Linked DNA regions of Homo sapiens. The protein of the gene in region 1 purifies or fractionates together with the protein of each later gene. This does not show direct contact. Each region holds a gene or a part of one and is shown in the gene's direction. Other genes may lie near its edges. The genes, in order: GPR183, SDC2, SDC4, ARHGAP29, TGFBR3, OSBPL8 and GPC6.

Region 1 (3,992 bases):
ATCAACACTGTACAGAATGCATACCTCTAACATAACATGACCACAATCCTCTGCTAACCCTCAGTGTCTATGAACATCTCAGTTTTAAGGTTGTTAGAATGAAGTTAGCTGAGATCCAAGTCATTTAATACAGCAGGGAGAGAAGCAGATTTGCAGACAGTGCTTTTGATCAGGGTAGAGATAGTCTTTAAGGAAATACTGTATAGTTCTTTAAATATACAGTAGCAACATCACTAGATATGCTGAAAGTGCCCCTTAATTTTGGTGACTTCCAGGTGAGATTTATGTACACACAGTTCTATCAGAGGAATTATTTTTCTTTTAAAAATAATCACACAGGATTTATTGCTCTGTTCTTCCTGCTTTAATCAAAGTTTACCCTCATCTACAGAACTTTATTGTAGGAGTTTTCCATTTTTCAATTTAGTACTTAAAATTTCTGCTTTAACATTATTTATAACAAGAAAAGAATTGGAAAGAATCCAAAAGTTCATCAAGGGAGTAGCTAAGCAAATTATGCATTGACACATTGGAAGACTGTAGAATATCTATCAAATGTTTATATAAAATATACACGACAAATATATACATTGCACTGACATGAAGATGTTTGGTGAATAAAGCAAGAAACAAAATATAAAGTGTGATGCTTGCTACTATGTGCAAAGGTAGAAGTATAGATTGCATGGATCCATGGAGTACTTGCAGATTGATAGAGTTTTAAAATTTAATAATTTCCCCTTGAAGTAGCTTAAGTCTTTTTCTCTCTCATTTTCTTTATCTTTCTTCTTTTTTTGTCATTTTAGTCATGGTTGTTGCGGTCGTCGTCTTCTTCTTTTTAAAAAGAAAATCTAACTTTCAGTTCCTAACATGGACTAAGCCTATTTCTCAGACTTTTAGGTTAACACAAATCAGATCACTGTGGTAAGTTCATATTTCACTACATAAATGTGGTGACTGATTTCATTTCCTGGCAGTGATATGCATTTGGTTAAAAAAAAATCCAACTGAAATTAAATTTAAAAGCAAAGCTTAATGCCTGTCTGAAATGTGGGGTGCTTTACTTAACCAGACAATGATTCAAAAAAGGGAAGGGGAATTTCTGCCTAAAAATTTAGTGCATTCCCTTCTGTCACAAAAGTGCGTTTGCCCTATTTAAATGGTTCTGTTTCCTTTGCCAGAGCTTTGCCAAAGTCAGCAAATTGTGAGAGTAAAAACACAAATTTTATTCTGTTCTTCCTGTTATCATATATGTAACCATATTATAATTATAAACTGTTAAAAATTGCATGTCATGAAATTTTAAAACTTAGATATATAAAAGACAGTTTGGATTGCTTTGATACATTATTTAAACTTTTTTAAAACTAATGAGTAATCAAACTGAATACATATGCTTTTACTTATATGATCCTTCTTGGTTTTTTTCTAGACACCTGGACCACCACCAATGGATATACAAATGGCAAACAATTTTACTCCGCCCTCTGCAACTCCTCAGGGAAATGACTGTGACCTCTATGCACATCACAGCACGGCCAGGATAGTAATGCCTCTGCATTACAGCCTCGTCTTCATCATTGGGCTCGTGGGAAACTTACTAGCCTTGGTCGTCATTGTTCAAAACAGGAAAAAAATCAACTCTACCACCCTCTATTCAACAAATTTGGTGATTTCTGATATACTTTTTACCACCGCTTTGCCTACACGAATAGCCTACTATGCAATGGGCTTTGACTGGAGAATCGGAGATGCCTTGTGTAGGATAACTGCGCTAGTGTTTTACATCAACACATATGCAGGTGTGAACTTTATGACCTGCCTGAGTATTGACCGCTTCATTGCTGTGGTGCACCCTCTACGCTACAACAAGATAAAAAGGATTGAACATGCAAAAGGCGTGTGCATATTTGTCTGGATTCTAGTATTTGCTCAGACACTCCCACTCCTCATCAACCCTATGTCAAAGCAGGAGGCTGAAAGGATTACATGCATGGAGTATCCAAACTTTGAAGAAACTAAATCTCTTCCCTGGATTCTGCTTGGGGCATGTTTCATAGGATATGTACTTCCACTTATAATCATTCTCATCTGCTATTCTCAGATCTGCTGCAAACTCTTCAGAACTGCCAAACAAAACCCACTCACTGAGAAATCTGGTGTAAACAAAAAGGCTCTCAACACAATTATTCTTATTATTGTTGTGTTTGTTCTCTGTTTCACACCTTACCATGTTGCAATTATTCAACATATGATTAAGAAGCTTCGTTTCTCTAATTTCCTGGAATGTAGCCAAAGACATTCGTTCCAGATTTCTCTGCACTTTACAGTATGCCTGATGAACTTCAATTGCTGCATGGACCCTTTTATCTACTTCTTTGCATGTAAAGGGTATAAGAGAAAGGTTATGAGGATGCTGAAACGGCAAGTCAGTGTATCGATTTCTAGTGCTGTGAAGTCAGCCCCTGAAGAAAATTCACGTGAAATGACAGAAACGCAGATGATGATACATTCCAAGTCTTCAAATGGAAAGTGAAATGGATTGTATTTTGGTTTATAGTGACGTAAACTGTATGACAAACTTTGCAGGACTTCCCTTATAAAGCAAAATAATTGTTCAGCTTCCAATTAGTATTCTTTTATATTTCTTTCATTGGGCACTTTCCCATCTCCAACTCGGAAGTAAGCCCAAGAGAACAACATAAAGCAAACAACATAAAGCACAATAAAAATGCAAATAAATATTTCATTTTTATTTGTAAACGAATACACCAAAAGGAGGCGCTCTTAATAACTCCCAATGTAAAAAGTTTTGTTTTAATAAAAAATTTAATTATTATTTCTTGCCAACAAATGGCTAGAAAGGACTGAATAGATTATATATTGCCAGATGTTAATACTGTAACATACTTTTTAAATAACATATTTCTTAAATCCAAATTTCTCTCAATGTTAGATTTAATTCCCTCAATAACACCAATGTTTTGTTTTGTTTCGTTCTGGGTCATAAAACTTTGTTAAGGAACTCTTTTGGAATAAAGAGCAGGATGCTGCAAAGTTATGAGTCTGTCCCTCAATGCTCCCTGTCAACTATCAGTGGGAGTGTCAGGGAAAAGATAATTGGCAATAGACTTTGAACTGCAACATTATAAATGATGATGATGATGACTGAGGCAATGAAAGCACTGAGCTTTTCCTGGAGCTGCCAGCACAGTCTTTTAGGGCCTCTGCTTAGCAATATGAAAAAGACTTTATATGGAGGTGCCCATTGGGAGGAGGGTCTGCTTGCTAAATTCATCTTGAGAATAAAAGACATGCCTATATGATTGGTTTTCTTGGGATCACTAGGGGATCATTTCTCTTTTCTTCCCCCAAGCTGTTAGTACTCTACATCTGTATTTCAATGGTTTGAGTTATCAAGTAGGAGAAGGGTGGTGCATGATGAGCAGTGAAAAATATAGCTGCTGCTTGCTAAATACGATCCGAGTAAAATGCAAACTTACAAAATTAAGCATCTTAGGATTCTTTACAATATTATATACTTGCTGAAATGAGTACCTTAGTATGAGTAGCATGACCTTTCCAGGTAGTCAACTGGTCTGCCTGTTCAAATTTGTTTTATCCCCAAAACTACCCCAATGCAGTATTCTCTGTTGGCAATGACACCAATTTTTATAATGGTAGATAAAGAAAATGTTAATTCTGAGTTGTACTTTAAAAATTTTTTTCAGAAAGGGGGTCTCACTCTGTTACACTTTAAATTTTTATTGGACTTTATATCCTGAAAATATTTTATTTAAAGTTCTCATCTTACCCATTTTCAACTTTTACTCTGTATGAAAATTAATCTTAATGGTTGATTCAACACCATTTACTAGTATATTCAGATTTCCATTACATTTATTTCACAAAGAGCCACCTGATTTTAAAGCCATTGTCAAAAATAGGCACTGGTCTTTGTAACATCTTATGCAGACAGGTGAGACAACACG
Region 2 (4,131 bases), on another chromosome or scaffold:
CCGGATCAGAGGCTGAGTCAGAGGAAACTGAAAAGATCAACTCTCTTAAATGACTTTAGGGACTCAATCACATGGTGAAACCATATGATTTGTAATAATAATGGGACAAAGATGATATGGATATGGATGAATTAAACTCAGTCTCTCATATTACAGTAACTACTTAGGTCCATTTCATTTCTCACCAGAACTTGTTTACCTCTCTCCCTAGTCACAAACCTGAGTATTCACCTATTTGAGATTTCTCTTCCCTTTTCTAACTTGTAATAGTAAAGCAGTACTAATGAGCAGTGAAAAGGTCTCTAGACTAGAACCCAGATAATCCATTCTCTGACCTGTTGTCTGTCTTTCCACAAGGCAGCCAATTAATGATGGGCTTTTCATGAGAAGAATAGAAAAATCTCAGCAAAAATACTGCCAATGAGCTGCTCTCTTCTGCTTTACTTTGGTACCTGAAGGCCTGGGAAGGCCTGTCGTATTTCCTTCTCTCATAGTAATAGAAAGGACGGTGACATTTTCAGTGCATATTGTGCACCAGTGAAATGAAATTTCTCTATGGCCTCTGCTTTTTGTAAGTCATGGCAGGTTGAAGTTTAGGTAGTACAGGGTTTCTTGCAATTTGGGAATGACAGTTACTCTTTATTATACTTTATTACATACCACCTTCAGTAGAAGTGTAGCGTTCTGCTCACTGAGACAGGGACCTATTGATCTTACATACCCTAGAGTACAAATGGATCCACCTGGTCTAGCTTATGGTCCTTCCTAGCAATGAGGGTGGCCTTAAGGTGCAGAAAAGAAGTATGATGTGGTCAGGGTCCCACAGGAGCTACTTGCACAGCCCAAGAAGGTGTGAGGTCTTTTCTTCTTACACTCTTTAAGCCTCTAGACTTAACTAGCAGGCCGCCATTTTGGATGAACTCTAGCCTTCAGAAAGCAATCATTTGCTTTGCTGAGCCATGGTATGTTAGACTCTGTGGAGTCCTAATGAAGATGGTAGGAAGCTCTCAGGAACTTAGGAAGAGTAGTAGAGCTGAGAAGGATTATTGTCTGCAGTATTTTTTTTGAGACAGGGTCTCACTCTGTTACCCAGGCTAGAATGCAGTGGCACAATTATAGCTCACCGCAGCCTCCAACTCCTGGGATCAAGAGATCCTCCACAGGTACACAGCACCATGCCTGGCTAATTTTAAAAATTTTTTTGTAGAGACAAGGTCTCAGTATGTTGCCCAGGTTGGTCTCGAATGATCCTCTCACCTTGGGCTCCCTACCCAGCCACCTTTAGCCTTTAAACCTCAATGAAGTTGACAGTGTTTTCATCAGTGATGCTGGCCGACAAGAACTTCAGACTGTTAGAGAATGAACAACTCCTTTGAATGGGACTTCTCTAATCCACTGGTTCTTAAACTATGGAATTGTCTGGAGAACTTAAATAGCAGTAAAAGTCAGTGCCAGCTACATAGTGCCCTGTATAGCTCAGAAGTGAAGGAGTAAGGAGAACTGGGGCAGTGCTGTTGGGTTGGAGCAGTCAGAGGGAGATGGTGACCTGAAGTCAGACCAATTGAAATGGAACCTCTAGTAGTAGGACTGTATTTTTTTTAATGCCTTTCAGGTGATGTGGATCAGCGTAACCTTGGGTGATTCACATAAGATGGCCAGTGATGGTGCTGAGAGTTAGAAAGGCAAGAGATAATTTCTGTGTAAATAATCCTGGGGGTTTAGTGAGGTAAAAGGTCAGAGAAGGCTTCATTAAGGACAAACAGATAGTAAAAGAAGTGCAACATTTGGACTGGGGATAGAACTGCATGAACTAGAGCAGAGTTCCCCACCCGCTTCTGGGGCCACGGACCAGTAGCGGTGGCCTGTTAGGAACCAGGCTGCACAGCAGGAAGTGAGTGAGCATTACCACCTGAGCTCCGCCTCCTGTCAGATCAGTGGAGGCGTGCCATTCCCATAGGATCTAGGAGCGCAAACGCGATTGTGAACTGTGCCTGTTGTGCTCCTTATGAGAGTCTGAGGTGGAATAGTTTCATCCCCCTCCATCCCCCCCACCCTCCCATTCATGGAAAGATTGGGGACCGCTAAACTACAGCACAGATACTAAGAACCATTTTTGATAATGAAGAGGTGGTGGAAATGACCTCACAGGGTTTTCTACTGGGAGTAAGTGGTGGGTTGGGTGAGGACTGGAAGCTACCCAACACCTGCAGTTCTGAGGTCGATGCGGGATGGGAGCTGGGCTGTGATGTGCTGGCCACCTGAACGAAGCTGTGGAAATGAGAACCCAAGGGAAGAAGTTAATGTGAGAGCAAGATGGGAGGCAAATTGACAGTGCTGTGACATGGAAAACATATGATAGAAAATGTGCCGTAATAGATAACTTGGTAACACCCCAAAATACAGTGCCATTAATGGGAATAGAAAAGGAGGTTGATCTGATTCAGCAGTGAATTAATTACTACTTAGACTTGACGAGTAGAGTTAAAGGTGGTACAGCCAACAGTTAATGTCCTGCAGGCTGCTGGCTTGTTGGGAATAATGCTGACTAGAGATGCGGCTGTGAGAGGTATTCCCATAGATTTCTGCTTGAGCATTGTGCAGTGTCCGAGACCCAGTGAGTGTCGTTCATTAGACAGGTGAGGAAATCAAGGTGGAGAAAAGAAGTATGATGTGATCAGGGAGGAGCTACTTGCGCAATCCAAGTCCCTGGAAGTCCTGGTCTAGGGTTTGCTGAAGGTAATATAACTAGGGGGAAGCATTAGGAGTAAGGCTTGGGGATTGCTCCCCACAGAGTGGGGACAGGAAAAGCCCAGTCAGGCGTGAGAGAATATCTGAAAGGGAACTGTTGTCCTAGTGCCCTGTGTAGTTCAGAAGTGAAGGAGCAGGGAGAATTGGGGCAGTGCTGTTGGGTTGGAGCAGTCAGAGGGAGATGGTGACCTGCAGTTAGAAGAGTGGTGAGAAAGTAGAAATCTTAGGAAATGTCCACTAAAACAACCTCACCATGTCCTTAGGATTATTATGAACTCACTAGCTCTCCGACTTGCCTGATCATGCGATGGGTGTTGTGCAAACCATGAACTACATGGGTCCATCATGACACTCACCCATTGCTATAAACATCACACAAGTGATTATTCCAGTTATTTCCTAAACTCATTCTTTGGGGGAAAAAAAAATTTTGGAATATACTCATCTATTATTTCTTCTTTCCAACACATTTCCTTAAATCAATGTAATCTTTCCCTGTTTCCCATACCAGTCACCTGAAGAAACTGATAAAGAGAAAGTTCACCTCTCTGACTCAGAAAGGAAAATGGACCCAGCCGAAGAGGATACAAATGTGTATACTGAGAAACACTCAGACAGTCTGTTTAAACGGACAGAAGTCCTAGCAGGTGAGTAGCCTGGTGGGCCTCAGGTGGGAGGGTGCCTACATAGGCCTCTGTTAGTCTAAGTGATATTCAAAAGTGCAGCAAAGCTTGCTGTCATCTTTCTGCTGAAAGCAGTCTTGTGGGTGCTTGATTCCAGAGCGAGAAGCAAGAGGCTCAGCAAACATTGTCTTTATTGTCTGCCAGCTCCCTCAACCTACCTCTTCGCCAGCCATCGGGCAGGGGATAGGAGGTAGCCTAAAAGAGGGAAAGTTAACATCTGAATTGATCCAGAACAACTGGATGTAGAGAGATGGCAGAGTGTGGAGATCCATCAGTCTTGCTCACAGGCATTCTACATTTCAAAATAAAGAGAACGAAAAGTTCTTTAGGGGAAGGCAGTTCATATAAGTACTGCCCAAAGTGTTAAGAACGTTGTTTCTATTTTAACTTAATTGGATGGAAGTGCAAATATTTTAAAGGGGAAAACTTTCAAGATTTAGGCACACTTGGTAGTCTCAAATCCAAGAATAGAAATAAATTTGCATGCTTTTTTTCATGTATACTCTTTAAAATTTTAAGTCAATTATACTATGTTCTCTGTTGAAAAAAAGCAGTTAGAAAATTAGAATATGAAATGTGAGTTCTGAAAAGACAAAAGTAGTTTTCAAGTATGGAATTAGTTAAGATCAAGGCCAGATTTTTCTTATCGAGGTTTTTGGGTGGTATTATTAACACTAACCAAAGAAATTACTGTACCTTC
Region 3 (4,131 bases), on another chromosome or scaffold:
TATCAAACACCCACGAAAATATTTGGGCCATGATTTGGAGGGTTCCATGAGGTTGGGGGGAGGCCTCTTTCCCCGCTGGGCTGACATCCCCCACCTTAAAATGAAAGGTTTGAACAGGGTAGCCTCCAGAGTCCTTTCCATCTCTCAATTTGATTAATAACTTAAGTACCTACTATTCAAAAGAGGTCTCTCTCTTGAAGGAATTAACTTGAGGGAATTAACATACTCCACCAAATGCTGAATCCCTCCCTCTCTCCCCCCGCACACTGAGGGCAGGAACTCTGCTCTATTTGTTTTTGTGAAATACCTGTCCCCTAGTTTGTACTCAGGAAATGCTTGTATGAATGAATAAATTCGTGCATGTAACTTTATTCTAAATGGTTCATTACTGTTATTTATTGCTAGTATGAGTATCTCCCAGTACTGCGAGGTACCATTTTCTCTATTTTTACAGGAAATTGATGCTCGGAACAATGCAGTGGCTTCCTAAGGTCAGAACCAGGTCCTTCTGATAGGGCAAGGTGTCTGGTTTGAGTGTCCTCAGAATATTCCAGATGAGGAAATTTGCTGGGTTTGAAGGTAGATACCTTAGGTCCTACTTCTGCGTTGCTGGGTGACCTTGAGCAAACATGCCCTGTCTCTGGGTCTCAGTGTCCCCAACTCTAAAATAAGGAGGCTGGACCATTGCCTTCCAAGGGTCCTTCCTGCCCAGAGAGCCCATTGATGAGGGGAGGGGCCCTTTGCTGGCCTCCTTGGTGAAGAGTCTAAACAAATCCCAGTCTCAGAAGAGAAGTTGGGGTGGCGGGGGGACATTCAGCTCCTGCCATCCCCAGCTCCTAGAAACAGAGGGCTTTTCCAAGGACTTGGAGTGCTGAGCCTGCCTGAATGAGGAGCTGGGGAAGCCAGGCTGGGCTCCCAGCCCCATCTCCCTGTTGGGAGAAGTTGGCTCCTAGCTGTCCTTCAACCTCCCGGACTGGACAGGCGAGTGTGATTTCCAAATGAATGCTTAAAATTGGGGTAAGGGGCTGGACCGAGCGCTGTGAGTCACTGCATGCTAGCGTAGCCTGCCTGAGTCACCCATTTCCTTTCAAACTCTTGGCTAATAGGACAGCTCTGTGGTGGGGGTGTTGGAATGAGCTCAGAGTTTTACCTTGTCCTTTGGGAGTCACTGTTTCAGTGTCCGGGGCTCGAGGGGACATACAGGACATGTTTGTACTAGGTCCCGCACTTTCACAGCCCCTTGCCTGCATGTAGACTTTGACATTGTACATTGTGCAGCCAGTCCTCAAAATTGGGCTTTAGACCTCTGCAGAGCAGGTAGTACTTTTTTCCTCTTTAAGGCAAAACTGAGGCTGCAACTGGCCTGCATTTTTTCAGAGAGCAAAAGCTGGTACTGTTCAGGTTTGGTGTGACCCCAGGATTTTCTGATGTTTGTGAGGACTCCTCTTTGCTTCCTGGGGCTGGCCAGAGGGCATTGAAACATTGGCTTGGTGTTACACAGACTTAACTCCAGACGTGCGAAGTCCACCTCTTACTGGCTACATGAATTCAGTCATGCTACTCCACCTCTGAGCCCCAGCCTCCTGGTCTGTTAAGAAGATCATGATACCGGTGTGGCGAAGCTTAAAGGAGACGACAGGGCTGTAAATAAAGGCACCTAGTACCATGCCTGGTAGGGAGGAGGTGTTACTTAGTGACAGTTCCCTTCCTTGCCCAGGCCACCTTCATGCCAGGGGGTCCTATCTCTGAAGATTCTGAGCCCAGGTCTCCTGGAAAGCTTTCTCCATCCCCCTTATCCCCCTTATCTACCCCCACAGCTGGGAGGTGGGAAGGGAGAAATCTAGGGTGGGGCTTTTGGAGTCCAAATCTCCTATTTGTTTATCTTAGAAGTGGGCTGTTTGCTAATTATCGAATGGGTTTATGTTTAAACAAGAACCAGTTCTGGGCAGCCCCACCTCTCCTGCTGGGATTTGCTGGAGCCTCATGCTGAACAGTTTGCAGCCTGGAGGGAGAGGGGGCAGGGGGTTTGCCAAGGGTATCAGACCACTCTGGACACTGTCCAGGACCTGGGGTCACCCTCCTGTGCTGGAGGGGCAGAGTTTCTACCCTTAAGGAGGCTGAGTGATTGCAAATAGCACTTTGAGGGGTGGGGTGTTGGTGGACAGAAAAGGTACAGTGTTCTGAAAAGCCAGTTTCTCGTATGTTTTCACTGCATGGTGCCCTAGAGAGGGAGGAGAGAGAACACATATGTCAACAGTTGGGGTCTCATTTAACCTTAGAAGAATAAGCCTGACTTCTTGGGCTTGTTTGTCATTAACTAACACAGTGGTGACCTTGGGCACATTCTTGCATCTCACTGGGGCCTCTCTGGTCCCATCTGCTGAAGGCTGGGTGACTGAAAAAGAGGGTACAGAAAACTCCAGCCCCCGTCCTAGCTCTGCTGCTCACCCAGGGACACACACAGTTAATACGTCACTTTGTTGATGTGAACTCCAGTGTCCTCTATAAAACACCTGTGGCACTCAAAGGTCATCATCGCTGTTTGGCAAACTTGTAAAGTTCTGGCTTTATTAGCACCTAGACGAGGGTTCTTAACCCGGCCAGAGTTTGGCTTTGGGGAGGTGGTGTCTGTGCATATGTTGAAAATGTAAACTAAGAGTTACAGTTATTGGGGTTTAGACCTTTTTATCCTTTTCAGGGGGCTGCAGTACTCCCCAAAAGGTCACTCTGATCTCAGCAGTTCTTTCTGGCTTTGACCTTTCTACAGCCATCCTTCCTCCCTCCCCCACTTCCCAGCCTTGTTCTTGCCTCCTGCTTCCCCCAACCCCCACCTTCAGCCCAGACCTTCCTATTCAGCGGCCCCCACCCCTTCAGGCTGCATCTCACCCCTCCCCCTGTCCTCCAGGCCCGGGAGCTCGGCTGCTCCAGTTTTCTCTGGCACAGTAGAAGAGGCTGCTGGTCAGGTGACACCTGGGGTAATGGAAAGGGGAGGCAGGGAGAGGCTGGTATGTGTGGAAACAGTGACTTGGTGAAGCCCAGCAGTCAGTGGCCAGGCCTGCGGGGACTGGCGGTGTCACTCTAGCCTCTGGGCGTGGGGGCAGATGTGGCACATGGCTGGCCCGGCTACCCAGAGTGGGGATACTCCTTGCCTTGGAGAAGCCCTGCCGGAGCCGTCTGTGGGACAGACTGACCTGGTCTGGAGGATGGCTTCCTTGGGGGTCGGTGAGGGAGGCTGGGAAGAGGCAGGAAGCCAGCACCCAGGGCTGATCTAATCAGCTGAGATAAGGCTGCAGCGTGGGCTCTCTACTCTGCTCTGAGAACACAGGAGGTTTGTTTACATCCCGAGAGCCTCCCTAGCCCTCGGATCCAGCAGGGATTTCGGATCTGCTGCCTAGATTACAAGCTCCAACTTCAATGCACCTCTGTCTCTGAGGCCCTGAGGGAGCCAGCCCCCTCCTGGCTGTCTCCACCGGTAATCGGAGCAATGCCCAGCTTGGTTACTGGGCTGGGACAGAGGGAGGCTTGTCTCTTTGAGACCTGTCTTTTACAGATTGGAAAACTGAGGCTCAGAGAAGGGAATTGTCCACGATCATCCAGGGAGTTAGTAACAAGGGTGCTGGGTCAGCTCCTGGCAGGGAGACATCCAGAGGCTCCTGAACCCTTCCCCCATTTCTAGCTGGCACCCTAGGATCCTGGAGTTCTTGCTGTGGGAATGGGCTGCCCTGAGGCTTGGTGAAAAGCTGGTTGCAGGCAGTGCCAGGCCTGGCTCTCTCCTGAGTGATTGTGTTCAGAGTAACCCGACCTTGAAGGCGACATTTGAACCCTCACTCCACCCCCACCCCCAGACCTGGTTTAACCATTCAGGCACCAGAGCACCAGACCATGGATTGGTGTGTAGTTTCTTTTTACCTTCTAGATTTTTATTTATTTATTTTGTCCCTGGGGACCCAGGTCCCCAAGTAGAATTTCAGGTGTTTCTGGTCACTGTCATTTGCACCTTCGGGGAAAATAAAAATGGTCTTTACCTCTGTCTGCTTAGGACAGGTGGTCAAAGCTGTGTGACCTTGGGCAGGTCTCTGACTATCTCTGTATCTTTTTTTCACAGTCTGAAGGGACCTGATTGGTTGTTGA
Region 4 (4,760 bases), on another chromosome or scaffold:
ATGGTGAGAGTCCTTGGCGCATTTTTCTTTTTCAGCACGATTAGAAGGAATTTTGGTTTTTGAGGTTTCCTATTTGTGGCAGGACCTTGTTACTATTATTTTGGGGATTTGAGGGGAAAATCTGTGTAAGTTGAGTCCAAAAAATCCAGTATGGTGCCAAAGTAACCAAGGAGCTGAGTTTTCTTATTTATCTTTTCTAAGTAGCACCTGAGGAGCCAAATTTGTTGTATTTTCTTAGCATTGTTTTTCCTGTAAGGGTTCAAAGATATGTCTATGTAAGATGTCCCTCTTCTCTTTCTTTGTCAATGAGTTTTTCTCTTGCCCCGCTACCCTACTTTTGGTTCTGTCATGCTCACTTACTTTTCTGTTTGTTAAGTGGGTAGTCTCTCCTTTTATTTTTCTTCCTTATTTTCTCTTTTTGCCTTCACTTATTTCTGCCTTCCTTGGTTTTCTTCCCTTTTCCTGTGTCTGCACCTCATTTTCTTTCCAGTTTTCCTCAGCACATTCTCCTGTGTCTTTTTCTGTTTCTCCCGTGTGTGGTCATTTTTCTCGCAGACCCCAGCGCTACCCACAGTCTCCCTCCCTGTGTTTTTTCCTCTGTTTCTCTATGAGTTCTTTCTGAATGTTCCAGCACTGAGGTAAGTGCCATCGCTTGTTCCAGCGAGTGGTGTGATATAGGGACTATGTGCTTTCTAGCCCTGCTTGCTATAATTATTCCATCTTTCTCAGACTTTTTTTTTTCTTCTCATTATGAAGTGAGTTTGAAAGTGCAGCTAAGAAAGAAAGGACCGGGCACAGTGGCTCATGCTTGTAATCCCAGTACTTTGGGAGGCTGAGGCGGGTGGATCACCTGAGGTCGGGAGGTCGGGAATTCGAGACCAGCTTGGCCAACATAGCGAAACCCTGCCTCTACTAAAAATACTAAAATTAGCTTGGCGTGGTAATGGGTGCCTATAATCGCAGCTACTCAGGTGGCTGAGGTGGGAGAATCAATTGAGCCCGGGAGGCGGAGGTTGCAGTGAGCCGAGATCACGCCATTAGACTCGTCTGGGCGACAGAGCGAGACTCCGTCTCCAAAAAAAAAAAAAAAAAAAAAAAAAATACAGATAGGCCTAAGTGGAAACTATTACCCTCCATAGAGGGCAGAGGGGCAGAGTAGATGGCTGGTTTTGAGGTAGTTCATTCTTCATTCAGACGTGTGGCGCCCTTCCCCAGGCCCTAACCCCTGGAAGAGGGAGGAAAAAGGCGATCCACAGAAGTGTCTCATAAGAAATGTAGCTGCTCATCTGGCCATTAGCCGCATCTAGTCCTCAGGTGACTTTTCTCTGAGTCGCTCTGCCTGTCCCCTGCAAGCCAAAAGGGCAGCCGACGCAGCCCGTGATGCTGGGACAGCGTCCGGCCGCGCGCAACTGACGGTCGCGTTCTGCGCGCGAGCTAGTTGCCTCCCGTACCTGCCGCGGTCGCCGGCCCCGCCCCCGGGAGCGCGGGCCAATGGGCTGGGCTCCAGGGGGCGGGGCTGGCGGGCGGGCGGTGCGGCCGTGGCGGTAGCTGCAGGGGCGGTGGCGGCTGCAGTGGTGGTGGTGCCTGTGGCTGTGGCTGCGGCTGCGGCTGCGGCTGAGATTTGGCCGGGCGTCCGCAGGCCGTGGGGGATGGGGGCAGCGAGCTCCAGCCCTCGGCGGTGGCGGCGGCCGTAGGTGTGGGGCGGGCGTCCGCGTCCGGCACGCGAGATGGAGCGCCGTGGTGAGTGTGAGGAGGTGGCGCTTGCTCCGGCCGCGGCGGTCGTGGCTCCGGGCTGGGGTTGCCCGCGCGAGCGCCCGCGAATTGCCGTCCAGGGTCCGGGAGGCCCGCGGGGCGGCCCCGAGTGGAAGCGGTGGCAGGCTGCGCTAGGGACGGGTGTCCTCGAGCCAGGACTGGAGTCCACGGGAAGGGTCCGGCCGGGGCTAGGGGCGCGCCCGGCGAGGGAGGCGCGGACGAGCTGGGGAGGACGCCAGCGGTGGCCGGGAGCAGACGGTGACGATCGTAATTAAAGTTAGCACACAGCGCGTACAACGGGTCCGCCTGCTGTTCTGAAGCCTTTGCACATTTTAACTCTTTTAATGTTCAGAACACTCCATGATTGTTCGACTCGGTTCACACGGGGAAACCGAGGTTAAAAACCTGCCCAAGCACACAGACTAGTGGTTGGCAGCGTCAGGACCTAAACCCAGGCGCTTTTGCTCCGGAATCCGTGCTCCTGATCACTATGGGTCTGTGTTCTTGCCTGGATTCTATTCCCGCTCCCACCTGCCCTGACTGCAGCCCTCACTCCAGTTGGGCTCTCATTCCTGAGATATTTTAGGATTTCCGTGGTGCATTTTCTCCTGGTCTGTGTTTTTTGGGTTTCGTTGAGAGTTTTCCTCAGTCTCAGAGGTTTGTCCCAGTTCAATTGTGGACGTGTTTTGGGGTTTGACAGTTTTAATTAAAAAAAAAAATTTTTTGGGGGGCGGGTGAGCTGGAGTTGGACGTTTCAAGGTGGAACCCTCGTGACTGACGAGCCTCTTGTCTCTATGTTTATCTTTTTAAAACTTTCTCAGAGGGTATTGGCCCCAAATGTTTTCGGAGGGCAGGATATTACCTGCTAATGGCAGGAGCTGAGCTCTCCTTCCCTTCTCTCCATCTGTCTCTGTGACTGTATCTCTTGTCTATAGTTTATCTTTTGTCCGTCGTTACCACCGTCGGCTGTCCATTTTGGTTGCTCCATTCTTCCCTCTTTGTTTAAATTCTTGGATGAGGAACTTGCTCTTTGGCAAAGAGTAGTTTTGGCTGGTCAAAGGAGAGTACTGCCTGCCAGGAATGCTAGACATTCTGGAGGGGTGGGATGCTGGGCAGCTTCCTCTTTTTAAAGCGTGCTAGGTTCAAACTGTACAGAAATGAAGTGCATGTGTATTGCATGCCTTCCTTTAAAAATTGTTTGCATAGTATTGATAAAACTCTTTCTCACATGTCCCTATTCTGTTTTTGTGGAGAGTGCTTTTTAAAACCATAAAGATTTAATCATCGTTTTAGGATGAGCTCATCTAATCTTTTTAGCATCTCAAAGTAGATTCTTGCCAAATCTGAAATTGTGCTGAAATAGCAGATTTCTGAAATATCTGGCAATTTTTCCTCAAGAAGAAATGGTAGAATGGGAAATAGTAAGTATAGATGTTTGGGGGCAGTTTTACACTTCAATTAGAGAGCCTAAAATGAAACTACTGCCGTAATGTGCATTTGGCAGGGGGCATGCGTGGGGCAGCGGACATTTGATTGACACAGGCTCCTGCAGTCGTGGGGGATAGGAAGTTTGTGTCTACATTTCTAATGCACACAACACTTAGATTTACAACATACAATGGAAGTGGTTTTGCACGGTAATTTTCTACTTGCTAGAGAATTCTTTGAGAAGTGGATAATACATGTTTTTAATATTGTTGGTTTGAAGTTGAAAGAGATGCACCAGAATTAGTGTGTCAAAAATATTTTGCACAAGTCTATTTGCACAGTTCAAATTTCACTTGGAAGCTTTTTAGTAGGTTTCCACAGAGTCAGTTAAGTTTCTACAATTGTTTCCAGTCCTGTATTTCTTGCTCACAATCCACTTATGTATTGTAGTGAAGCCACATCTTGTTCAAAAACAATTTCCCACAATAAAGCACTGCTAGTAATAATGACTTTTCTTTATGGTTCATCTTTATGATGAACCAGGCACTCTGCTAAGTACTTTGCATGCGTCATTACCTAATTAAGTTGCCAGTTGCAGTCTGTTAGTAACTAAGTTTTATGTTACTTCCAACAAGAGAATATTCATTTTCGCGCATGAGAAAGTAGTGTATATGATCTTGGAAAGTGTGTATTGTTCCAGCTTCTCATTATCATAGTTCATTTATGAAAGCTTGGGTTAAGTTTGTTATTTTAAACGTTTTTTCAATTGTAATGTTTCCTTTTTTTACTCTGGAATATGAAAAGTAGTAATATATAACAAAATCAGCACATTAATCATTATAATGCTGGCTAGAGATAGGGTATAATCCTTTTTTATAAGAGGAAAAGAGTTCCTCTTCTCCTTGCCATGTGTTTGATGTTGTTGTTGCTGTGTTTGTTTTTTGCAGATTTTTTAAGTCTTGTCTAAAAATGTTCCAGCAGTTTTGAAACACTTTGAAAGTTTGGGTTACTATTTTACATGTAGTTACTTAAAGTAAATTATTTCTGCTAAAATAGGTAAATTGTTTTAATGTCTTTAATTTTTGTAACCATCTTTACCAGTGACAGTGACCAATTCTCTAATTTACCAAGTTTAAAAGCTGTCATAACTAAACAGAATGACGTTATTAAGTAAACTGCAAGAGTGATGTTTGGTTAGGCTAATAGGCATTTTGGTTAGTGATTTGTAAAAGAGCTGCCCAAAAAAGACACTTTGAATTTTTGTTTTGTTTTTGTTGATGGGAAGGAAGACTTAGATATAATAATAATGCTCAAAAATTGCCCTAGATTCATTTTAGAAATGATGTATGCATATAAGGATTAATGTTAGATAGGTTTGAAACTAGTTTAAATGTAGAAGTTAGATTCTCAGAAATAATTTGAGATTGACAAAAGGACAGTGAATAAACAAACTTTAAAAATTATAAAGTGTGGTCCCCAGTTTAATAATCAGGAGGAGCAATAATAGAAATCCAACTTTGATTTCAGTTTTATGTAATCTTCCCTCAGCTTCATATACTTTTCTTTTTGAAACATACCAT
Region 5 (4,131 bases), on another chromosome or scaffold:
GGACAGATAGATAAACACACATATAGTTTTTTTTCAATTTGTTTCCTTAAGTGGTGTGTAGGCCAGGCACAGTGGCTCACACCTGTAATTCCAACACTTTGGGAGGCTGAGGTAGGAGGATCACTTGGCCAAGGAGTTCGAGACCAGCCTGGGTAACATAGTGAGACCCCCATCTCTTTAAAAAGTGAAGTTTGTATGTAAACTAATTTTGTGTGGTTTGAATAATATTTCAACTTACCTGGGAGAAATGGAAATCCAGAGGAATTTGTTGTGAATCCTTTTGTAATGATCCTCATTTGTGTTTTGTAGAAAACTGAATATAATGAATTTGTTCTCAGGGAGGTTGGTGTGTTCACAATCCTGTCATCATCTTTCATTAACATCTTCTAAGTGCAAGACAATAGGGGATCAGTAATCCTAAATAACAGCAGTTCTATTACTGTGAATTCCTCAGAGGCTTACGTTAATATTCAAGTATAGTAGTAGTTCAGATGTATCATATTTGATACTAGTATAAGTGTGATGTGTCTATGAATACTCATACTTGTAAACATAAACAATAAGAATATGCTTGAAAAAATCACACTTGACATTTATCTATTTATTTATTTATTTTTTGAGATGGAGTCTCTCGCTCTGTCGCCCGGGCGGGAGTGCAGTGGTGCAATCTCAGCTCACTGCAAGCTCCACCTCCCAGGTTCACGCCATTCTCCTGCCTCAGCCTCCCCAGCAGCTGTAACTACAGGCACTCGCCACCATGCCCGGCTAATTTTTTTGTATTTTTAGTAGAGACGGGGTTTCACCGTGTTAGCCAGGAAGGTCTCGATCTCCTGACCTTGTGATCCGCCTACCTCAGCCTCCCAAAGTGCTGGGATTACAGGCGTGAGCCACGGTGCCTGGCCAAACTTGACTTTTAAAAAAAGTTTTTGGCTGGGTGTGGTGGCTCACGCCTGTAATCCCAGCATGTTGGGAGGCCGAGGCAGGTGGATCACTTGAGGTCAGGAGTTCGAGACCAGCCTGGCCAACATGGCGAAACCTGATCTCTACAGAAAATACAACAATTTGCTGAGCGTGGTGGTGCACACCTGTAATCACAGCTACTCCAGAGGCTGAGGTGGGAGGATCCCTTGAGCCCAGGAGGTGGAGGTTTCAGTGAGCTGAGATCGTGCCACTGCACGCCAGCCTGGCAGACAGCGAGGTTCTGTCTCAAAAAAAAAAAAAAAAAAGGTTTTCAATTTTTGTCTGTAGTTTTGTAGGCCAGTTTCCTTTCTTGTTTCTTGCGTATTATGTAGTATTTTTTTATTATTTATTTATTTATTTATTTTTGAGACAAAGTTTCGCTCTGTCGTCCAGGCTGGAGTGCAGTGGAGTGATCTTGGCTCACTGCAACCTCCGCCTCCCAGGTTCAAGAGATTCTCCTGCCTCAGCCTCCCGAGTAGCGGGGACCACAGGTGCATGCCACCACGCCCGACTAATTTTTTATATTTTTCGTAGAGACGGGGCTTCACTGTGTTAGCCCCGATGGTCTTGATCTCCTGACCTCATGATCCACCCGCCTCGGCCTCCCAAAGTGCTGGGATTATAGGCGTGAGCGACTGTGCCCGGCCCCATATTATGTAGTATTGATTTACCTTTATTTCATTTACTACGTTAGGGTCCCATGGATCCTATTTTAAAATAACTTTCAAAATTAGTTGAGTCCCTTCTTTTTAAATCTTAGCATTGCGCTTATACTACAGAGTGGCATTTATTTAGGATCTCATTTAGTCTTCTATGCTTTGCTCTAGTTTACTCGAGTAATTCAACAAACACTTATAACCTCCTACTCCCTACTAGGCTATGGTTTCTGGTCTTGGAGCTTGGCAAATTAATTGTCCTTATTCAGTGCTCTGATGACTGGGGGCCAAAATGCCTTCAGGTTGCTTAGGGCTTTCTTACAGAAAGCCTTTCGTTGGCTTGAAGGAAAGTGTTGTTCCATTGTTTTTAAGACTCAAAAGAATTAATTTTTCTCTCTTGCATGCAAACTTGGTTGTGACTTGTAAAAGTCAGGTGAGTGCTTGTTTTTCTGAGGGCAGAATCTGAGCCTAAGAGCCCAGGGAACTCAACTGTCCTTTGAGTTTTAAGAAGGTGATCACTGCTGACTTCTTTAGTATATAAGTGAAGACCAATTTCCTGGCTTCAAAAATCTGTGAAAGGTCCTGACTTTACATTTTAAGCTTAACAGACAGAACAGTTAGAGTTTAGACTGTGACTGTGTAAGTAATAACTTTGCTGTAATATTTTGCCTGGATGATTCTGCTCTGTGGTCATTTTGAATTACCTCCCTTCTTGATAGTTCATTTTGAAACATCTTTTTGTGGTGCTTTCATTGCTGTTGGATAAAAATTGTAATTGTCAGATTTATTTTTTATTTTTATTTATATACTTATTCATATAAAATATGTAAATATATGTAAAATCTCACATATATATAATCTATAACTATATATTGTATAATATATAATATGTATATATTTTGAGACAGAGTCTTACTATGTTGCCTCGGCTGGTCTCGAACTCCTGGGCTCAAGTGATCCTCCTGCCTCATCTTCTCAAATTGTTGGGATTACAGGCATGAGCCACTGCTCCTGGCTGTCAGATTTATTAGCTACTAAAGGACAGTCTTCTTTTTCAGTCTTAACAGTTACTTAAAAGTGATTTTATTGCCATTTCCATCAGTCTACTGGAGCATTTTTCTTATATTTTTATTTTTATTTTTATTTTTTTTGGGACGGAGTCTCGCTCTGTCACCCAGGGTGGAGTGCAGTGGCGCGATCTCGGCTCACTGCAAGCTCCGCCTCCCTGGTTCACGCCATTCTCTTGCCTCAGTCTCCCGAGTAGCTGAGACTACAGGCGCCCGCCACCACGCCCAGCTAATTTTTGTATTTTTAGTAGAGACAGGGTTTCACCGTGTTAGCTAGGATGGTCTCAATCTCCTGACCTCGTGATCCGCCGTCTTGGCCTCCCAACGTGCTGGGATTACAGGTGTGAGCCATCGCGCCCGGCCATATTTTTAAACTTATTTAAAACAATTGTAAATTTAAAAAATGTTAACTTTTTTGAAATTTGCATAACTTGAGTTAGATAAATGTTTTTAGGGGCCTTTAATGTAAAAGCAGTCTTGTATTGCCACTAGGAATATAAGCAATTTGGAATTTAAGAGTGAATCTAGGTTATATGAAAAGCTAACCTTAAACACATAATAGTGAGCCTTCAGCAGATTGAGTGAGGGCATTTCTGTAGGAAGAAAATTAAGTGTACCAAGAGCCATAGCAGTAACTTCTCTGGTTCTGCATCTTCAGAGTAACACTTGGAATGATAGCATTGTTTCTTTGCAGCATGTCATAAAACACAAGCTGTTGCTAATTTGTTCAGTGTCTAGTCAAGCTGAAATAAATCAACACAGCTTGGAAGGGCCTTACAAGAAGGATCTGGGTTCATTTCCTGGGCTCTGTCCAGGAAATATAGAAATATAATAAATAAATCTAGGAATATAAAATTTCTAGATTTCTTATTTTATATCTTTTGAAATAGCACATTTGTTTGTTAACTGACATTGAGCTTTATTTTCTCTGCTTGCAAAGTCCTTGCTTAAGAATCAGCACAAATTTCCAAGCATTCTTCCTCCCCACTTGAATAATGATTTTGATGTCTTGCTCTCTCAACCAAAATGTGTTTTTGAAACAACATTGATATAAATTCTGCATGAGGCTACTGTCATTTGGAACTTATTCTTCATTTTTTATTCTTCAGTTTTTCAGGCCAAAGATGAAGACTTAATAGGCTGACAACTGCTTATGAGGGATAGAGACCATATTTAAAATGGAAGGTCTAGAACAAGAGCCCCAGAACCATGCCTTCAGGCCATCCTAATGTGCCCTGCTGAAGATAATTTTTTGGTGTCGGGGGGCAGGGCAGGGAGCCTAATGTCTGGTTTTTGTGGTGGTGGTTCTTTTATGTTGAAATCTTCTTCCATCCTGGGAAGAGGATTCAGTTATATGTAGAGCCTAGCAAAGTTGATTTTTAGAATTAGATTTTAATGGTTATTTTTTTTTTTGAGACAGAGTCTTGCTCTGTTGCTTAGGCTGGAGT
Region 6 (4,131 bases), on another chromosome or scaffold:
ACACAAAAGACATTTTTTGTTTTTCATCTTAATTAATAAAACTGTGGGTATTATATAGAAGATGAGATTTAAGAAGTGATTGGATAGAAATTTCTTAGTAAATTAAAGGATTGTTTTTACCAAATACCAGAAGATATGTGTCATCTTGCAGTCTAGCTGTGTAAACCAAGGCACAGTTGTATTAGTCACTATTTCTGTGTAATAAGTTACTCTAAAACTCACAGACTTAATAACTATGTGCTGTTCCTCATGAGTTCTGTGAGTCAAAAATTTGGACAGGGTATACTGGGGATAGCTTATCTCTGCTTCATAATGTCTGGGGTCTCAGAAAGACTTTGTAGGCCATGGGTGACTCAATAGTTAGGGACTGTAATCACCTGAAGGCTTATCACTTACATATCTGATACCTGGTCTAGGGTGACCGAAGGACTAGAACTGCTAATCTGAGCACCTGTATACATGGCCTTTCCATGTGACTTGATTTCCTGACAGCATGACAGCCTCAAAGTAGACTTCTTACTTGGCAGTTGAGGGTTTCAAAGTGCAAGTGCCCCAGTGAGCAAGACAGAAACTGCATTTCCTTTCCATGACCTAGCCTGAGAAGCCAAATTATATCACTTCCACCATCTTCTATTATTTGGAGAATTGTAAGACCACCCAAATTCAAGGAGAAGAAATATAGACCCCACTTCTCATTGGGAGAGTGGCAAGGTCTCCTTGAGGAAGAGTATGTGGGCTGAAGGGGAGAGGGTACGTATTGTCAAGGCCATCTTTGGAAATTTTTGTCTGCCTCAAAATGAAAGGGAAATTTGAGAACTTAATGTGAATTAATTGTTCTTGAACAATAGTATATTCAGATAAAAATATTTCTGTAAACTAGTAATATTTATTACTAAATTGCTGCTATGTTGATATCCAGCTGATAAGCAATTTTGCTCTGATAAAAAAGACCTCTTAAGTATTATTTGATGCAATGTCTTTTATTTTATTTTTCTTTCACCTTGGCAAAATTTTCCTTGTATGGTGATGATAATGTTTGAAGATCATGATGAATGAGTTCTTAAGTATATATGATGCCTTTAAGTATGACATTGGAGCATCAAAATTTTGTCTCTAAGGAGAGATGTTAGTAAGGCATTATAGTAACTCAGTGTATTCCTTCTAATTTTATTTTTTGGAGGCTTTTTTTGGCTATATATTTTACTTTTGTTTGTTTGTTTTTTAAGGAAGGGGTGTTATTTATTTCAATGGATCGTTAATTCCATTAGGTTTATTGAGTTGTTATTGCTTAAGATAACGTCACATTGATAGGGCACAGTCTTGACAGGGGAGGACACAGGATTTGAGCATACATGGAACATGAGTCAGTTATATCAGGGTGATCTTTCTTAATATGTTTATTTTGATTTAATATAGTCTGCTTGTTTTATCCTATTTTTTTCATAGCAGCAATTCAGATTTCTTATTAAACATTTCTAACTAAAATTTGAGTCAGTATTTTTTTACTGCTTGTGCATTCAATAGTACTGTAACTATACAAGCAATTTTTGTTGGGTTTTTTGTTTTGGTTTTACATTATATGTAAATATAAGTGAAAAGTAAAATGTTTAACATTTTCTCGTTTAAAAGCCATTCCTAGGGAGTAGTGACTGTGTTAATCAAATATCAGGGAAACTTAAACTGGGAAAAGAAGTCCTAGCTACTTTGGAAGGTCATTGGGTAAGTATTTTGTATATGAGCTTTACAAAAAGAATTTTATTCTGTGGGAAAAAAAAAATCACATTTAAAATTTAAAACTTATTCCGTTGCTGAAAACATCACTATTTAACATAAGCTTCATCTTAATAGCAGATATTTTGGTGGTGTTCTGTTATCAACAGTAGTTAATTTTGTGTAATATTTTATTTCCAAAACTTAAAATCAGTAGAAATAGCTAACACTTATATATGACTTACTGCATTATTTAAGAATGTTACTCATATTAACTGATTTAATATTTATAACATATAACGCTATGAGGTGAGTATATAGGTGCCATGCCCATTTTATTATTGTTTATTATTGTCCCCATTTTACAGAAGAGGACACTGAGGCACAGAGAGTTCACATAATTTGCTCAAAGTAGGTAGTGGAACAAGAATTAAAGCCCAGGAACCCTGGCCCCAGGACTGTGCTTTTATGCACAGCACTCTACTCACATAGAAGAAAGAGGCATAGTTCCAATTAGAGTTATATTCCTTTCAGTGGAACATGGAAAGGATATAGTGGTGTGTGAGAGCAATGGCTTTTATTTACTTCTCTGCTAACCTAAATTCATATTTATGTAATTTTGTTAAGAGACGCTTAAATGAATAAAAAGAATCATGGTACTGCATGGATATACCATACTATGAGCACTGAGTATATGCTCCTTTCTGCATGCAGTAAGCAGAAAATGTTGAGAAATATGAGAAAGTGAAGTTAGGGACTTTGTTAAGTGGCCACATACACTCTGAAAATTTTTTTTAATTGCCTTAAATCTGAGAGTCTTCTGGAAAAAAGATAAAGCAGCAGTCATTTTTAAAAAATGAAATTTCTGTCTGGGTGGGGTGGCTCACACCTATAATTCCAGCACTTTGGGAAGCTCAGGAGTTTGAGATCAGCCTGGGTGACATAACAAGACCTCTTCTCTACTAAACATAAAAATAAAAAAATTAGATGGGCATGATGGCACATGCCTGTCCCAGCTACTCAGGAAGCTAAGGCAGGAAGATTGCTTGAGCCTGGGAGGTGGAAGCTGCAGTGAGCCATGATTGTGCTACTGCCCTCCAGCCTGGGTGAGAAAGCAAGACCCTGTCTCAGACAGATAGATAAGATAGAGATGAGAGTGAGAGATGACAGAGAGAGAGAGAAGGAGAAGGATGGTTAAACAGGTAGATAAATTAGATAGGTAAAATAGATTAGATAGATAAGGTAGATAGCACCGCTGCACTCCAGCCTACACAAGAGAGCAAGACCGTCCATGTCTTAGATAGAAAGATTATTCGATAGAGATAGACCTCAAATTTTTAATGCTAGTAAAGGCTCTTTCAGAGGGATGTGTGTGTGTGTATGTTTGAGTATATTGAATCCATGGATAGTCAACAGCATCTCATTGTAGCTGCAACAAATACTATGCTCTACTTGGACAGTTTGGAGATGGTTATTGAGGCTTTGCATGTAATGTTTGAAATTTATTAAGTAAAACTTATGAAATTTCACAAACTGGATATTCAACCAAATTCTTTTTAATTAACTAGTATTACGTAGTCAATCTTAATGTTTTTATAAAAATGATAAGAAACTTGGAGTTTTTGGAAAAGTGCTAGTTATATTTGTTTTAAAAATGCTTTTAACTGGAGGATTAACCAGAAGAAATTATCACCGTCATATTACTATACTATATAATTGCCTTCTAAGTATAATTCTTTACATTAATTTTGAATTTTTTTAAATATAGGATAGTGAAGTTTTTATTACTGATAAAAAGACTGATAATTCAGAGGTTTTCTGGAATCCAACACCTGACATTAAGCAATGGAGATTAATAAGGCACACTGTAAAATTTGAAGAACAGGGAGATTTTGAATCAGAGAAGTAAGTATACTGTTTTACAGCTAACTTCATGAGGATCAGAGAGTAGTTTTTCAATTCCTTAATGATATGGTCATTTTGTCACCTTCTGTCATATCTTAATTCAGCAAAATAGTTTATCATTTGTGGAAGTGACAGTATTCTGTTTTTGTGTATATGAATGTCAAATATAATATAAATCGTCTTGCTTTTCTGTAGCTCAAAACTACTCATTTTTTTCTTTCTCAATTGTTCCAGCACCTTAAAAAAAAAGAAAGAAAGAACGTTTTTGTTTAAATAAGATTACAGGACTAATTAATGACTCTTAGTTTCTACCTGGCAACAGTTTTCTAACCTGATTTAAGCATTAGAACTCTAGGTAAAGGGAGTGGTGCAGAATCTACTTCTGTTCCATTCTCTGATACAAAAGTAAAGTTACTGGATGGACTGGCTTCTATAGGATTTATTAGTTGGGTAATAACTAAGGCTATCATTTCTGTTCTTAAGTCATGAACTTCTTGCTAGATGGCTTATATTTTT
Region 7 (4,881 bases), 6.1 Mb from region 1:
GCTATAAAGTTGTATTGAGTGCTCATTCAATACTTAACAATTAGCTGATCTTCAAATAATTTAAAACCACATATACTATGCTTTTACCCATTCTTCCTTTACCTCCATTTAAAATAATGAATTATCTGCTATACTGAGTCAGGGTAAATTACAATGAGTCCCAGGATAAGGTGGTAGGACAGGAAGTGTGTGTTTTTACCCTCTTCCTCTGGAGTGCATAATGCTTTACTATGATACAAAGAGAAGTTTGAAGGAAGTCACGTTGTCAAATATGACAGAAGTAATAACTTGACTGCAATTCCTGAGCCTATCAACCTCACCGTTTGTCCACAAACATAACCAGAATATATTTTATCTTGATTTCCGACTTGAGGGAAAATAAGTTCAGTGATTTAAGATCTGCCAGTTAGCATAAATATTGTGAAAGCAAAAAACTGTGCTAAAATTTTAAGAGAAAAAAAGTTAAGTGTGTTGCGTTTTCAGAAAGATTTAGCTATGGAGTTTTTTTTTTTGTTTTGTTTTGTTTTTTTTTTTTTTGGTTTTGTTTTGTCTTGACCTATGAGTTTGAAGAAGACAAAGTGGCTCTGTAAATAAGTCGACTTCATTTTTAAAGCGTTTGGAAAGGTTAAATGAGGTTGAATCTTGAGAGTCTTTTTGGTGGTTAGGAGAGGGGGAATTTATTAAAGAGAGGAAGACAATGTACCTAATATGTTGTGATGATAATGACAAACTCAAAGATTTAAACTTCATGAGTCATTCTGGTCATTCATATCATCATCAGGAAAACATCTTCATGTGTAGCTTCATAGGTGAGCTCCACAAAACTGTGCATTACCTTGTAGTAGTTTGTGAATAATGTGCTGACCTATGACACATAGCCACGTAAGTGAATAAACACTATTATTATTATTATTTTGTCTTGGTTTTCATTAAACTATCTTAGTAGTTTCAGGAGCTCTGGGTTTCAACACACACTTCTGCCAGCTGACTTTAGTGCGTCCATTAGCATAACAAAGTCAATTAGGCAAACCTGAATTTTCACTTTTATCCCGTTCACAGAACATCAGTGTAAATGGAGACAGGAAGAAGAAATTGGATTGATTCTCCACTTGAGAATTATGTTAACTTGGAAGAAAATGTTAAGTCTACTATGTGAGGGCATCTAGTGAGAGGGAAGGAATCACCTCCCTTCCCCCATTATGTCCCTTTATGCACCTCTGACCCTTGTGCTCTCCTTTTCTTGTTGCTTCTGTGGTCTGGTTGTTAGCTTTCCCGATCCTCCACACATTAGAAACCTAAGCATAATGATTTCTGATCGAAGGCTATGAGATATTTGAAATAAAAAAAGGGGAAATTGTTGAGTCTAGAACCAAACCTTTAAAAATTAAGAACTACCAGTCTGTAATGTGTGCCTTTAGAAAAAAACAAAGTCAAACAGAAATTAGGCAACTAGTTAGAGCCGTGATTGTGCTCTGCCACCCATGAACTCCCGTCTATGACTATTTCCACTCTGGCTTTGTGTTTCAGTAGGTCAGGGACACATATTAAGAGCAACAATTGGAACTGCGTTATCCTTTACCTCCATAAAAATACAGCTTAATAACATGTTAATGACTTAAAATTACCTTGTCTTTCTAGATTGTTTATTGATGTCATTTCAGATCGGTATAAAGGATGTGAAGTGAATAAGAAAATAGGTACGTTTCTTTTTCTTTTTTTCCCCTTTCTACCGACTAGGAAGAGATCCAGTCCAGGTTTTGCCTTTGACTCGGCCTGTGAATTTCGGCTGTGCAATGTGTAGCACGTTTCTTTCTCCCCCCTCCTTTCTCCTTCCCTCTTGCCTCCAGTGACTGTCTCCAGGATTTCTCTCTTCCTATTTCAGGAGGACTCTCACAGGCTCCCACAGCCTGTGTTAAGCTGAGGTTTCCCCTAGATCTCGTATATCCCCAACACATACCTCCACGCACACACATCCCCAAGAACCTCGAGCTCACACCAACAGACACACGCGCGCATACACACTCGCTCTCGCTTGTCCATCTCCCTCCCGGGGGAGCCGGCGCGCGCTCCCACCTTTGCCGCACACTCCGGCGAGCCGAGCCCGCAGCGCTCCAGGATTCTGCGGCTCGGAACTCGGATTGCAGCTCTGAACCCCCATGGTGGTTTTTTAAACACTTCTTTTCCTTCTCTTCCTCGTTTTGATTGCACCGTTTCCATCTGGGGGCTAGAGGAGCAAGGCAGCAGCCTTCCCAGCCAGCCCTTGTTGGCTTGCCATCGTCCATCTGGCTTATAAAAGTTTGCTGAGCGCAGTCCAGAGGGCTGCGCTGCTCGTCCCCTCGGCTGGCAGAAGGGGGTGACGCTGGGCAGCGGCGAGGAGCGCGCCGCTGCCTCTGGCGGGCTTTCGGCTTGAGGGGCAAGGTGAAGAGCGCACCGGCCGTGGGGTTTACCGAGCTGGATTTGTATGTTGCACCATGCCTTCTTGGATCGGGGCTGTGATTCTTCCCCTCTTGGGGCTGCTGCTCTCCCTCCCCGCCGGGGCGGATGTGAAGGCTCGGAGCTGCGGAGAGGTCCGCCAGGCGTACGGTGCCAAGGGATTCAGCCTGGCGGACATCCCCTACCAGGAGATCGCAGGTAAGCGCGGGCGCGCTGCAGGGGCAGGCTGCAGCCCTCGGCTGCCGCACGTCCCACTGGCCGCCCGGCGTCCCCTTCCTTCCCCCTGTTGCTGAGTTGGTGCTCACTTTCTGCCACCGCTATGGGACTCCGCGTCTCCGTGTTGGGCGGCGGATGCTCCTGCGGCTTCTTCGGCGGGGGAAGGTGTGCGTCTCCGCCGCCTCATTGTGTGCACACGCGGGAGCACCCTGGCTCCCGCCTCCCGCTGCTCTCGCGCCCTTCTACCCCTTAGTTGATGGCTCAGGCCCGGCTGGCCAGGGAGCCCGGGTCACTCCGGGGCGGCTGCAAGGCGCAGACGGAGAGCCGAGCCGGGCGCTCACTCCGCGTTCTGGTTCGGGCAAACTTGGAAGAACTGCGACCGCAGTTTGCCCAGCGCCACAGTCTGAGTGGCGCCTTCTCCACTCCCGCCCTTGCGCCGGCAGGGGCGGTGGAGAGACGCGGAGGGCTCCCCCAGCCCCTCTCTCCCCTATCCGTCCTTCGGGCGACAGAGCGCCCGGCGCTCGGGCCGGGGGCGGGCAAGGCTGGGAGGGACCCTCGCCGGGGACCTGGCCTCTGGACGCCGGCGTTTCAAGGCTGGTTTGGGGACTTCACGGGCTGCCTGTTTCAGATGTGGGGCGGGCTTTCCCGTTAGGGTTCCTCAGTGCTTCCCCAGTTGCTGTTGGCCACTCAGGGCCCGGGGACACCCTGCCACCCGGTCTGGAGCCGGCCTCGTCTGCCAGCGAACAGCCAACTTTAGCGGGTGGCTCAGCTGGGGATTCGGGTCCGGGTTCGGGGGCCCCGTGTCCCCCGCATGCCCGGCCACTGGCATTGCTCCACCAAGAGCTTGAGAGCGCCCACCCTTTCTCTCGGCGCCAGTGTGTGTAGCACTTGGTCTCCGACAACTTGCGCGGCAGTCTGGGTGCTTGTTTTCCGGCTCTTAGCTCCAACCGAATCCGAGCTTCTCTGGGGCTCTGTGAATGAAACGTGTCGGGGAGAGATAATCCTTTGGCTGCTAAAGAACAGAACTGAGAGAGGCCGAGGGAGGCCAGGAGATGCTGCGAGGGCGCGGGCTGCTCAAACCGGGCAGCTGAAGTCCTTAGTGACCTCAGATCGTCAAGTCAAAACGCTGAATTTCCACCAGCCTCTGTCTGCTTTTTGCCAAATAACTGGTGGATGGATGAAAAGCATTTTGCAGATATCTTAGAACATCACAGTTTCGATACGTTGAGGAATTACTATTTTCTTATGATTTTCAAGCTGTAGAAGTGAGGGTTTTTACTTACACTGAAATGAACACATTTAAATAAATTTGAGCATTGGCAAAGGGGGAAAAAAAGAGGCGCAAATTACCACGCTCATTATATAGAAGGAGCTTTTTCAGTTCAGAGCCAGACATTCCCTTTGCTGAGTCTAAGTTAGAATCTGTGGTGAATTATAAGCCTACTTTTCTATCCTTGTTACTTCTTCCTTCTTTTCCAGAACTCCTTAATTTGTTAATCAATGAATAGAGAGCGACTGTCCCCACAGCTCCTTAAGTTTCTTAACTCTCCTTCTCCTTTGTCTACTGTTATTTCATTCTTTTTAATTAATTGATAAGGATCAGCTTCGCTTTTTTTTTTCCCTCCCCAAATCTCAGGGAATTCAACTTTTTAAAAGGTTTATAGTATGGATCACTTCTTCTAGGAACTTTTTCTCCTTTAATCTGGGCTTTTTCAAACGGTATCTTTTAAGCACACAAGATATTTCCCAACATGATTTCAGATAAGATGTCTCAAAGAAGAAAATAGTTAGGTATTTTTAAATTGCTTCGGTATTCTTTAGAGGATAATGGGACTCTCAGGAGACTAGAGTTCATCCTCAGCATCAGGCACATCTCTTTAATATCAAAGTGAAGATTTTCAGTGTAAAACAATTTCTGTAGTCACCATGAATGTTTGTTGAGAACATTCCCAGGGGTTCATGTAAATTCTTCGGTGGATATTTAACTAAAGAGGTTTTTGTTTTTGTTTTTGGTTTCCTCCCCACCTTTTTACAATTACAGTGTTTGCTTATTAGCTATGAATTTCTAAAATGTGTGCACTTTTTTTTTTTTAAACTCACCTACTTTCCATGAGTAAGGGCATACTGTTAACTTTGCTTTAAGCCTTGTGTCCTTTGATGCTGGTAGACATAATCAAGATGCAGGTCACCACAGGGTCAGAGGCACATTTAATAGGAAAATAATGAATTGAA

What was found.
Region 2: the proteins of GPR183 (region 1) and SDC2 purify together in Homo sapiens (affinity purification with mass spectrometry; 3 studies listed by BioGRID and IntAct, with this or other methods). This does not show direct contact.
Region 3: the proteins of GPR183 (region 1) and SDC4 purify together in Homo sapiens (affinity purification with mass spectrometry; 2 studies listed by BioGRID and IntAct, with this or other methods). This does not show direct contact.
Region 4: the proteins of GPR183 (region 1) and ARHGAP29 purify together in Homo sapiens (affinity purification with mass spectrometry; 3 studies listed by BioGRID and IntAct, with this or other methods). This does not show direct contact.
Region 5: the proteins of GPR183 (region 1) and TGFBR3 purify together in Homo sapiens (affinity purification with mass spectrometry; 3 studies listed by BioGRID and IntAct, with this or other methods). This does not show direct contact.
Region 6: the proteins of GPR183 (region 1) and OSBPL8 purify together in Homo sapiens (affinity purification with mass spectrometry; 3 studies listed by BioGRID and IntAct, with this or other methods). This does not show direct contact.
Region 7: the proteins of GPR183 (region 1) and GPC6 purify together in Homo sapiens (affinity purification with mass spectrometry; 3 studies listed by BioGRID and IntAct, with this or other methods). This does not show direct contact.

Annotation. Positions count from the first base shown.
Region 1 is NC_000013.11:99,293,604-99,297,595, reverse strand, and holds the end of GPR183 (G-protein coupled receptor 183), read left to right. Parts: intron 1-1,432; 5' UTR 1,433-1,450; coding exon 1,451-2,536; 3' UTR 2,537-3,057; downstream 3,058-3,992. UniProt on the Homo sapiens protein: G-protein coupled receptor expressed in lymphocytes that acts as a chemotactic receptor for B-cells, T-cells, splenic dendritic cells, monocytes/macrophages and astrocytes.
Region 2 is NC_000008.11:96,605,076-96,609,206, forward strand, and holds part of SDC2 (syndecan-2 precursor), read left to right. Parts: intron 1-3,259; coding exon 3,260-3,395; intron 3,396-4,131. UniProt on the Homo sapiens protein: Cell surface proteoglycan which regulates dendritic arbor morphogenesis.
Region 3 is NC_000020.11:45,341,355-45,345,485, reverse strand, and holds part of SDC4 (syndecan-4 precursor), read left to right. Parts: intron 1-4,131. UniProt on the Homo sapiens protein: Cell surface proteoglycan which regulates exosome biogenesis in concert with SDCBP and PDCD6IP.
Region 4 is NC_000001.11:94,234,395-94,239,154, reverse strand, and holds the start of ARHGAP29 (rho GTPase-activating protein 29), read left to right. Parts: upstream 1-1,570; 5' UTR 1,571-1,727; coding exon of another isoform or gene 1,728-1,740; intron 1,741-4,760. UniProt on the Homo sapiens protein: GTPase activator for the Rho-type GTPases by converting them to an inactive GDP-bound state. Has strong activity toward RHOA, and weaker activity toward RAC1 and CDC42. May act as a specific effector of RAP2A to regulate Rho.
Region 5 is NC_000001.11:91,879,234-91,883,364, reverse strand, and holds part of TGFBR3 (transforming growth factor beta receptor type 3 isoform a precursor), read left to right. Parts: intron 1-4,131. UniProt on the Homo sapiens protein: Cell surface receptor that regulates diverse cellular processes including cell proliferation, differentiation, migration, and apoptosis.
Region 6 is NC_000012.12:76,370,932-76,375,062, reverse strand, and holds part of OSBPL8 (oxysterol-binding protein-related protein 8), read left to right. Parts: intron 1-1,629; coding exon 1,630-1,719; intron 1,720-3,478; coding exon 3,479-3,615; intron 3,616-4,131. UniProt on the Homo sapiens protein: Lipid transporter involved in lipid countertransport between the endoplasmic reticulum and the plasma membrane: specifically exchanges phosphatidylserine with phosphatidylinositol 4-phosphate (PI4P), delivering phosphatidylserine to the plasma membrane in exchange for PI4P, which is degraded by the SAC1/SACM1L phosphatase in the endoplasmic reticulum.
Region 7 is NC_000013.11:93,224,986-93,229,866, forward strand, and holds the start of GPC6 (glypican-6 precursor), read left to right. Parts: upstream 1-1,821; 5' UTR 1,822-2,471; coding exon 2,472-2,631; intron 2,632-4,881. UniProt on the Homo sapiens protein: Cell surface proteoglycan that bears heparan sulfate. Putative cell surface coreceptor for growth factors, extracellular matrix proteins, proteases and anti-proteases. Enhances migration and invasion of cancer cells through WNT5A signaling.